2 separate regions of the Homo sapiens genome follow, and region 1 is linked to region 2. Evidence: fine-mapped expression QTL. Tissue or cell type: aorta. Region 2 holds a variant in brackets; the other region holds the start of a gene. All regions are shown on one strand. Distances are between the middles of the regions. Region 1 holds the start of SNRK-AS1 (SNRK antisense RNA 1). Region 2 has its middle 83 kb from the start of ABHD5.

The links. PIP is the estimated chance that this variant, and not a neighbour inherited with it, causes the effect. A credible set is the group of variants that fine-mapping cannot tell apart.
Region 1: it holds the start of SNRK-AS1, and the variant in region 2 is the best candidate, but not a certain one, in a credible set for the expression of SNRK-AS1 in aorta (GTEx, PIP 0.57).

Annotation. Positions count from the first base shown.
Region 1 is chr3:43,349,859-43,354,260 of GRCh38, reverse strand. It overlaps SNRK-AS1 (SNRK antisense RNA 1), which reads left to right and starts at 2,299. Exons shown (of 3, transcript NR_046757.1): 1 at 2,299-2,663; 2 at 2,880-2,930; 3 at 4,284-4,402. SNRK (SNF related kinase) reads right to left here. Exons shown (of 7, transcript NM_017719.5): 7 at 3,118-4,402.
Region 2 is chr3:43,771,779-43,776,180 of GRCh38, reverse strand. No RefSeq gene overlaps it. Among named protein-coding and RNA genes, the nearest start is that of ABHD5, 83 kb to the right of the region's middle. RefSeq lists an enhancer at 2,324-2,850. The variant C/T (reference allele first, on the strand shown) is at 2,313.

The DNA.
Region 1 (4,402 bases), 420 kb after region 2:
CCAGGATAGAATTAGAGGAATTTGATTGACCCTCTTGCCTTAAACAACTAGGAAACCAAACAAAATATATGGAGCAATAGTTTCCAGACATTGAGCAACAGACAGCATAGGGCTGTCACCCCGAGAGAAGGGAGGCAAATGAGGTGAGCCCTGAGTTGAATGCCCCAGCTCACTGCCCAAAGGCAGTTGCCAGAACACAGAGAGGGAAAGCCCAAATAGTCTGGTTGAGTTGAGCAGGTAGTTTGAAGTTCAAGATCAATGTGCAGGGCAGAGAGGAGGGAGCTGCACAGATAGTGAGCAAGCTCCAAAAGAAAATCTGTGGTCTTTGGTTGAGTACTGATCAGTACTTATGAGAAAACTACCTGAGGCTGGAGAAAGAACCACTGGAAAGCAGCAGGCTGAACAATGCTCAGAACTTACCCAAGGCTGGTAATAGTTCATGTTCCTACCAGCCAGAGTAGAAAAGCCTCAATAGAGTCCCTAGAGAGGTATTGCCTCAGTAGTGGGCCAAATTAGCCCTAGACTGAAGACTGCTCAGGATCTGCCCTAACAGTTTAAAAGTGAGACATGAAGGATCCAATGATTTTAAATAACTGCAGTCCAAAATGAAATCCAATACTTCTCACACGAATACAAAAAATTCCAGCATTCAACAATGCAAAATTCAGTGTCCAGCATTGCAATAAAAATGAATCAAGAATTTTTATACCCAATGATAATATCTTTCATAAAGGAAAAGTAATTTTTCAAAACAAAAGCTGACAGAATGTAATGCCAGCAGATCTGCATTATATGAAATGTTAAAGAATGTTCTACAGGCAGAAGGAAAACCAAACTGTGGATCTACACAAAGAAATGAAGAGTGCTGCAAATGACAAATATGTAGCTAAAATACTCCCCCCCCCCCTGTTTAATCCCTTAAAAACTAGTTAAAACAATATTTATACATATACAAAAATAAAATGTATGACAACAGTAGTATAAGGAACAGGAAGAGGAAAATAGAGGCATACAGTTGTAAGGTTTTTATATTCTACATGAAGTGATATATTAAGATAGACTGTGATATAATAAAATACATGTATTGCAAATCTTATAGCACCCCCTGAAAAACAAGAGTTACAGCCAATAAGCCAATAGCGGAGATAAAATGGAGTAACAAAAGGTGCTCAGTTAAACCAAAACAAGGTAGCAAAAGAGGGAAAAAGAACAGACGAGACAAATAGAAAACTAGGTAGGTTTAAACTCAACCATATTGACAATTACACTAAATGTAATACATCTAAACCCTCAATCAAAGACAGACATTTGCTGATGGGATAAGAAAGCAAGCTCGAACTATATGATATCTGCAAAAAACAAACTTTAAACATAAAGACACAATAGGTTAACAGTAAAGAATGGAAAAAGATATATTCTCACAAGTCAAAAAAAAGCTGGAGTTACTGTATCACTATCACACAAAGTAGATTTCAGAACAAATAGTTTACCAGTCATAAAGAAGGAACATTTCATGAGGAAAGGGATCAATTCATTGATATGACGTAACAATCTTAAATGCTTATGTACCAAACAACAGAGCTTCAAATTTTCTAAAATAACACTGCTAGAACTAAAAGGAGAAATAGACAAATCCACAACTATAGTTGGAGATTTCAACACTCCTCTCTCAATAATTGAGACAGAAAATCAGTAAGAATATAGAAAACTTGAACATTATCAACCAACTTGAACGAACTGACATGTATAGGACACTCCACCAATAGCACTTTCCAAGCACTCAGGAAACATTCACCAAGATAGGTCGTATGTTGGGCCATAAAACAAGTTTCAGTAATTTCAAAAGATTTAAACTATAGAAAGCATGCACTGATAAAAATAGAATTAAACTAAAAATTATAGAAACCTATGTGGGAAAACCCCAAATATTTGGAAACTAAACACGTTTCAAAACATGGTATGATTTAGCCTTTAAAATGATCTCTCATACTGCTAAGTGGAAAATAAATGAGAAAGACAAGGGCAAATGCAGGGAAACCCTTTAAGAGGCATTTACAGTTGAGTGTCATGGACTAGAGTGGTAGTGGTGGTGGCAATGAGAAGGAGTCAACTGTGAAAGGCAAGTTAAGATTTGCTCATAAACTGAATGTTGGGATGAAAAAGTGGATGACACCAAGATTTTCAGCTTGAATGAAACTATTGAAGGCTAGGAGTTGATATTTATTAAGATGGGTGCGCTAGTAAAAGGATTTGAGGGGAAAGATTAGGGGTTTTGAACTTGTAAAAATTGAGATGCTGTAGACACACAGACACATCCAAGAAGAAAAGTCAAATAGATAGTTGAAATCCAGTGTTCCCAGGGTATGTGGGCTAAATATATTTTGGGCTTCTATCAGCATATAGATACTAGACTAACTGAGATCAGGAGTCACTGCAGATAGAGCAGGGGTCCAGAATTGAACATTGGGACATTCCAAATTTAGAGGTTGGAAGAATGAGGAAGGACCAGTGGACATGAAGAGCAGCAAGGCAGAAGTGAGATACTGAAAGATGGGAAGTTCATAAGGAAGAAAGTGAGCAATTCATCAAATTCTAACATGGGATTGAAAATTGATCACAGGAAGTGGTTGCATGAGGCTGGAGTAAAGGGAGTTGCGGACAAGGTAAAGTATGCCAAAGGGCACAAGATTTCTTTGGCGGGCGGGGGGGGGTTGTAAAAGTCAATTATGGTAATGGTTGTGAGAACTGAGTAAGAGTAGCTGACCTTGGAATCACAGTAACAGGAGGAAGGGCAGAGCATGTGAATGTGTATGAAGGAAGGGAGGAAGGCAGAGGTGGGAACTTGTGGCAGTTCTCATTGCTTCCCTTTATTCAATTAGGCAGCATGGTGACCAGCAGAGTGAGGAAAGGAGATGAAATAGAGAAATAAAGTAAGTATACTTAATGGGCACCCTGGCCCCACCTATGATTTGTAGCCATGAGTTTAAACATAATAATGACTGTACTTTTTCAGCCAAATCTGGTGGTGCAGGCACAGGGCATGGAGAAGGCTGGGTCTAACTGAGGTGGGATCACACAAAGCTACACTCATGAGAAGCAATACAACACAGGACACGGTTTATATTGCTGAACACCAATATGTCACTTTATTATTTGGATTTTTTTTCCCATTTGTCACATACCTGTCAATGTTTACACAATGAGGGAAATCAACCAGCATTGGAAGCAACTGACCAAATCAGTTGATAATTCTGTACCCTCTTAACACACATCAATTTTCACTTGGTAGGGATTATCTTTAATTCGGTCTCACAGCTATTCTTAAAATTGGTGTCAAGATTGTCACATCTTTAAATACAGATAGAATTGCCAGAAGTACATAATTATATATATATACACACATACAGAAAAATACAAGACTGTTTTTCCACAATATTTAATTTATACACTACTGTAACTATATGCAACTTTTGAAGACAGGTTAAGGGGTACAAGTAACTGTTTAGAGCAAGTAAGTAGTTTGGTCCAATATTATCTTAATGTAATGGTTTTTCGCTCCCTCCCTTTTATGTGACGACATACTATGACATACAAAACATGCACAATCATTCACTTATAAACAAAGGAGTAAGACACCACTCAGACTGACATTTGTATACCCCAAGGGTCAACCACACAACTAATAAGGCTATAATACAGCTATGCAGCATAAATGGTCAACACTGCTGATCCTAAAGTGAGCACCATATATACATCTGAATATAAAAAACCATTGAAACCAAACACATATGGGTTAGTTAAAAGGTGCCATTCCAAGGCTATACATAATCACAGGAAAAAGTATTTACACTGCTTGGAAAACAGCTGCAACAAAGAGTTTATTGCCAATGCCCTTTATAAACTTCTCTCCTATGTTTAATACAGATGTTACGCTCACTATCTATGTGAACCACACATCTTATTTCTGGCCCTTTATAAGATCCCTGCTCAAGAATTTCAAGCAAATATGTTCTATGGCTTCACCCACACATCTATTCTCATAGCTTTCAAATTATAAATATCACAATGAACTAGAGCTGTAGCTTAAAACATCTAGCCTAGGTCTAGAAAGTAAAATAAGTATTTTAAGTATCATTTTTACTTAGTTTAGTAAGTATACTGTGAAATTCAGAGTTCTGAGTAAAATATATTTATCCTAAAGTAGCAGAGTCAGTGTGTACTTGAAGAAACAGTGACCACAGCAATGCAGTTCTTTGGTGATGTGCCCACTCTCTGAATTACAGGACCAGATGCGTCTCAGTCCGTCACCTCAGACACATGACTCGGGGCTGAAGAGTGGGGAAGGGCCCTGGGTCCCAGCCACATGCTATCACCAATGTTGCTAAGCACTGCTTTTAAGACT
Region 2 (4,402 bases):
GCCCTTTGTGGAGTTCCCTCAGGGCCAGTCCCCTCTCCTCAACATTGCTTCTCCTCCTGCAGAGGCCAGCACAGTGCCTCCTCACCATGAGAGTGTTTCTCACATGTTTCACTAATACACCTTTAATGGCAGAAGACAATGTTGAAGCCCCCTGAGTCCTCTCAGGAAGCAGCCTCCATCTCTCATCCCTCCACAAGCACATTTCTTTGCTCCTGCTTTAACATTAAAATTCATGAACCTTTGCATTGCACATAATCATATATGAGTGTTTATTTTAATATAAAAACCATGATTTCTCCCAAGTCTTCCAGCGCATGCAATACTCTGGGAAGATGGGCGGCTTCCTGTTGCCTCCAATGAGAGCTCTAAGTCTGACATTCCCACTGTGGAGTACATGAAAATAGGGCTGGACAGATAGTTCCAAGAGAAGGCCACCTCCCCACCAGGCCAGCTGAGCTTCAGAGGATGGAGATGGAGGGGTTGGGCTTTCAGCTTGTACCTTATTCCCCGGCAAGGCTCTTGACAACTTGCAAAACATCTTCACACCATGAATACCCTCTCACTTGAAGTCACAATGAAATGGAAGGACAGGGAGGGCAAGAGTTATTATCCCCACTTTACAGTGAGGTTCTGGGCTTTTTGATGCTCCACAGTTAGAAAATAATGAGGCAGAGCTAAAAACCCCTTTAAATTTTCCCAATACATGGAGTGTCCTGTTATTGGGACAACTGGTCAACCACTGCTACTGAGGCAGGAATTCTACCCTACACAGAGCACATGTGGAGCTCACTTGGAGACAGCTCAAGCCTCGTCTTCCTGAGGACAAGACCTATCCCCCTAACCAAAACATACCCCCCACCACCCTGACACACACCAGCCCCTGGGCTTGCAAACTCATGCTTCAAGACTAAAGTCCTCAGGAGCCCTTCTCTGACCCCTTCCAAAGGCCAGTAATTCTTGCTATAAACCTATGCCAGCCAAGAGGACCCCAACACGTACCCAGAGCTATAAAGCCTGCCTTCTAGCCACAGGGCACTGAAGGCAGCTTTCTGAATATGCTGAAGAGGAAGCTGGAGAAAGAAGTTTTTTCAAACAGTTCTTCACCTCCTCCACTGACTGTGCTTTCCTGGCCCACTTGGCATTCCCCTGCCTGCAGAGGGAACAGCTCCTAGTTACGGCACTCAACTGGAAATGATGGTGAGTGCAGCGGACCTGGCTCTTCCACAGAGCCCCCTTTCAGGGGAGAGCATGGATGGCAGAGCAGGGCATGGGCTCACCTGCTGGATTGTTGCCCTCAGGCTGCCAGGCAGCATCCTCCACGTGGGCCCTCTGAGAAGAACACTCTAGGGGTGATGTGCCTTTCTCTTTTTTTACTTTTTTTTTTTTTTTTTTTTGAGATGGAGTCTCGCTGTCTCCCAGGCTGGAGTTCAGCGGCTCGATCTCGGCTCACTGCAGGCTCCGCCCCCGGCGTTCACGCCATTCTCCTGCCTCAGCCTCCCGAGTAGCTGGGACTAGAGGTGCCCGCCACCTCGCCCGGCTAATTTTTTGTATTTTTAGTAGAGACGGGGTTTCACCGTGTTAGCCAGAATTGTCTCGATCTCCTGACTTCGTGATCCGCCCTCCTCGGCCTCCCAAAGTGCTGGGATTACAGGCGTGAGCCACCGCGCCCGGCCGGTGATGTGCCTTTCTATAGGAACTGGCAACCCAGGGACTCTCCCACTATGGCTCCCCCACCAGAGCCCCTGCCTGAAGGATGCCGTTGCCCACCCTGGGGTAGACAGTGACCTAGAGGGAGGCCACACACTGGAGGATCTTCCTTAGCAGAGGTCAGCTATGCCACACACCACTCTGAGACTCAGTTTCTTCATCTTCAAAATGAAATAAAATCATTGGATCCACTTAGCCTTCCTTGGGTCTTGGAGGTGGAGAATCACTTCCCCAAATTCATCTCCAAAAGTGATTAGATGAACTGACCCCAGGCGAGAGGAAGGAGATTTAAACCAATGCCCATAAATGGCCATAATCCTCATGGAAAAAGTGGATCATTTCAATACAAATGGGAAGGGCCATGATGGTGATCAGGCTCAGATGCTATGGAGGCAGACGAAGTCCCACAGTCCCCTGGGGAGGTGGTCCAGGGGCAGAACACCACCCACTCTGCTCTCCACCTCTGTAGGTGCCAGGATGAGCTTGCACTAACTCTGTGGCCAAGAGGGCGAGGCATATAAATGGGGCACAAGAAATGGAAGAGGTGAGAACTGTTGCCACTAGAGATGGCACACCCCCTCCATGACGACATGGGGACTCAGGCC[C/T]GGTGTCACCAGAGTGGCTTTCAAGAGAAGCAGGAAGTCTGGGCTTATATGTGAAAGTTCCCAGTTTTTAAAGGTGGGCAACTAGTTCCAGTAAAATAACAAAATCACCCAGCCAACTTTACATGAACCAAACGAAATTCATTCTCTCCATGTGCCTGTGATTGAGGGAAAGTGGGCTTCCTGGGTTCTCAGGGATCCAGGGAGGGAGGGACAATTCCACAGCCTCAATGTCACGAGGAGAGAATGCCTGGGCTGGGGAAGCCAGCGTGTGACGGATGTGGCCTTTGGGGAGTGGAATGCAGGGGAGAATAAGTCAGCAGGTGGGTCAGACAGCTCTGAAGCCTTGCTAGAAAGTTCTAGCCTGAAACAAAAAGCTGCCAGAGGCTCCCTCCTCCTCACACCTCCTCCTTGCCACCAGGGCTGGTCTCTGCAGGCCGGCAGCTACAGCAGGATGACTTGCAGGTTTTGCTGGCAGAGCAAGCTCCCGCCTGGCTGGGGCAGAGAGCAATTCCTCTGGCCACTGCCTGTCATGCCATAGCTGCTGGACCTCTCAAGTGACTGCCTGGGGTCTGGAGTCTGGAGTCTGGAGTCTAACTATGAGTGGGACTGGGGGGTCAGGCCCAATTCAGCTTGACTGGTCCAGCTCTCCCAGTCCTTAGCGTTCATCTTCCCTCCCCTGCCAGATGAATCTCCTTTCCAGGCTCTGCTTCCCCAGCGATTCCCAGACAGAGACAGTCCATCTCAGTCACTGGATATTGGCTAATTGATTGGGTTTTTCTGCTCCTGTTCCAGAGTCAATTGAGAAAGTCCTCAGACACCACTTTGAAGGGGAAAGATGACTCAGGTGGGATAATTTCTAATTGCCCTAAATTCTGCTCTCATGGAATTGGAAGGGACTTTGTAACACACCCCCAGCCCCTGCTTTCACACAGGGACCCCATTAAAGCATCCAGAGAGGCAGGAATCTACCAGGTTTCCCAAACCTTGGAAGAAAGGTCCCCTCCCAGTCACCTCCCCCTAGGGAGAAAAGTAGAGCATCCTAAGGGGAGAGGTCTCCGCCCCTGACCACGACCACAATTGTGAGACCTTCCTCTCTCCCTTCGCTTAACTGACAGAAATGTTTTCCTCTTTTTGAAATGTGGGAACAAGAAAGCCATTTCACTGCTAAAAAACAGACTTGGAAGCCGAGGATCAGGCCACCCTTAAGAAGGCTTTGTTGAGTCTCCAAAATATTCCACAAAGTGTTGATGTAAACAATGCACTACTAATTAAATGTTACAAAAAAAAATTCAAGTACACTGTTCCTTCCTCAAGTCTTTCTGAATCTGCAAACTTTAGACTTTAACCATGAAGTTCATCTTGCAAGTTTTAAACAAATTTTACTTAAGTTTAATCAAATTTTACTTAAGACACTTCAGTAGAACTCTCATTCCCCAAATAAAGAGTTTTAATACAGAAGAGCGGATGGCTTAAAGCACCTGATTTCCCTCTCATATAACCACTTGTGGTAATGAACTTAATAAGATAAAGGCATTGCCATTTTCCATTAAATTATATTGCTCTCAAAAGAAATCAAAATCAAAACTTTAAATATTTTAAAAATCCATTTCAAATCATGGACATTAAGAGATGTAATCTGGAATACTGCCTCCATTGCTTGACACATAAACAGACTTCAGAATATCACATCATTAAACCTAAGTTTTCTTTTAGTAAAATGAAGTTAAATAATAGTCTTTATGAATATCCAGAGACCTGTGCACTTATAATATGCACACCTGTTTGTATATTATACTTTAATATTAATCTATCTCTCTGTCTCTGTCTCTTTCTCTCTCTGTCACTCTCACTCTTTCATAATCCTTGTTCATACTCATCTCCCGGGAATACTGTGAGAATCAGAGGGGCTGATGTACTTGGCAACGATCTGTAGACCACCAAGCACTAGAAGAGGAAGAGGACACCCATCATCACAGAGCAGGTGGCCTCACACACCCACACCTATCAGAACTGGGACTGGCAAGAGGCAGTGGGACGGCATTTAGAGAAGAGGCTGGAAGAAGGCAGATTCCACCCCGCACCAGCTGTGC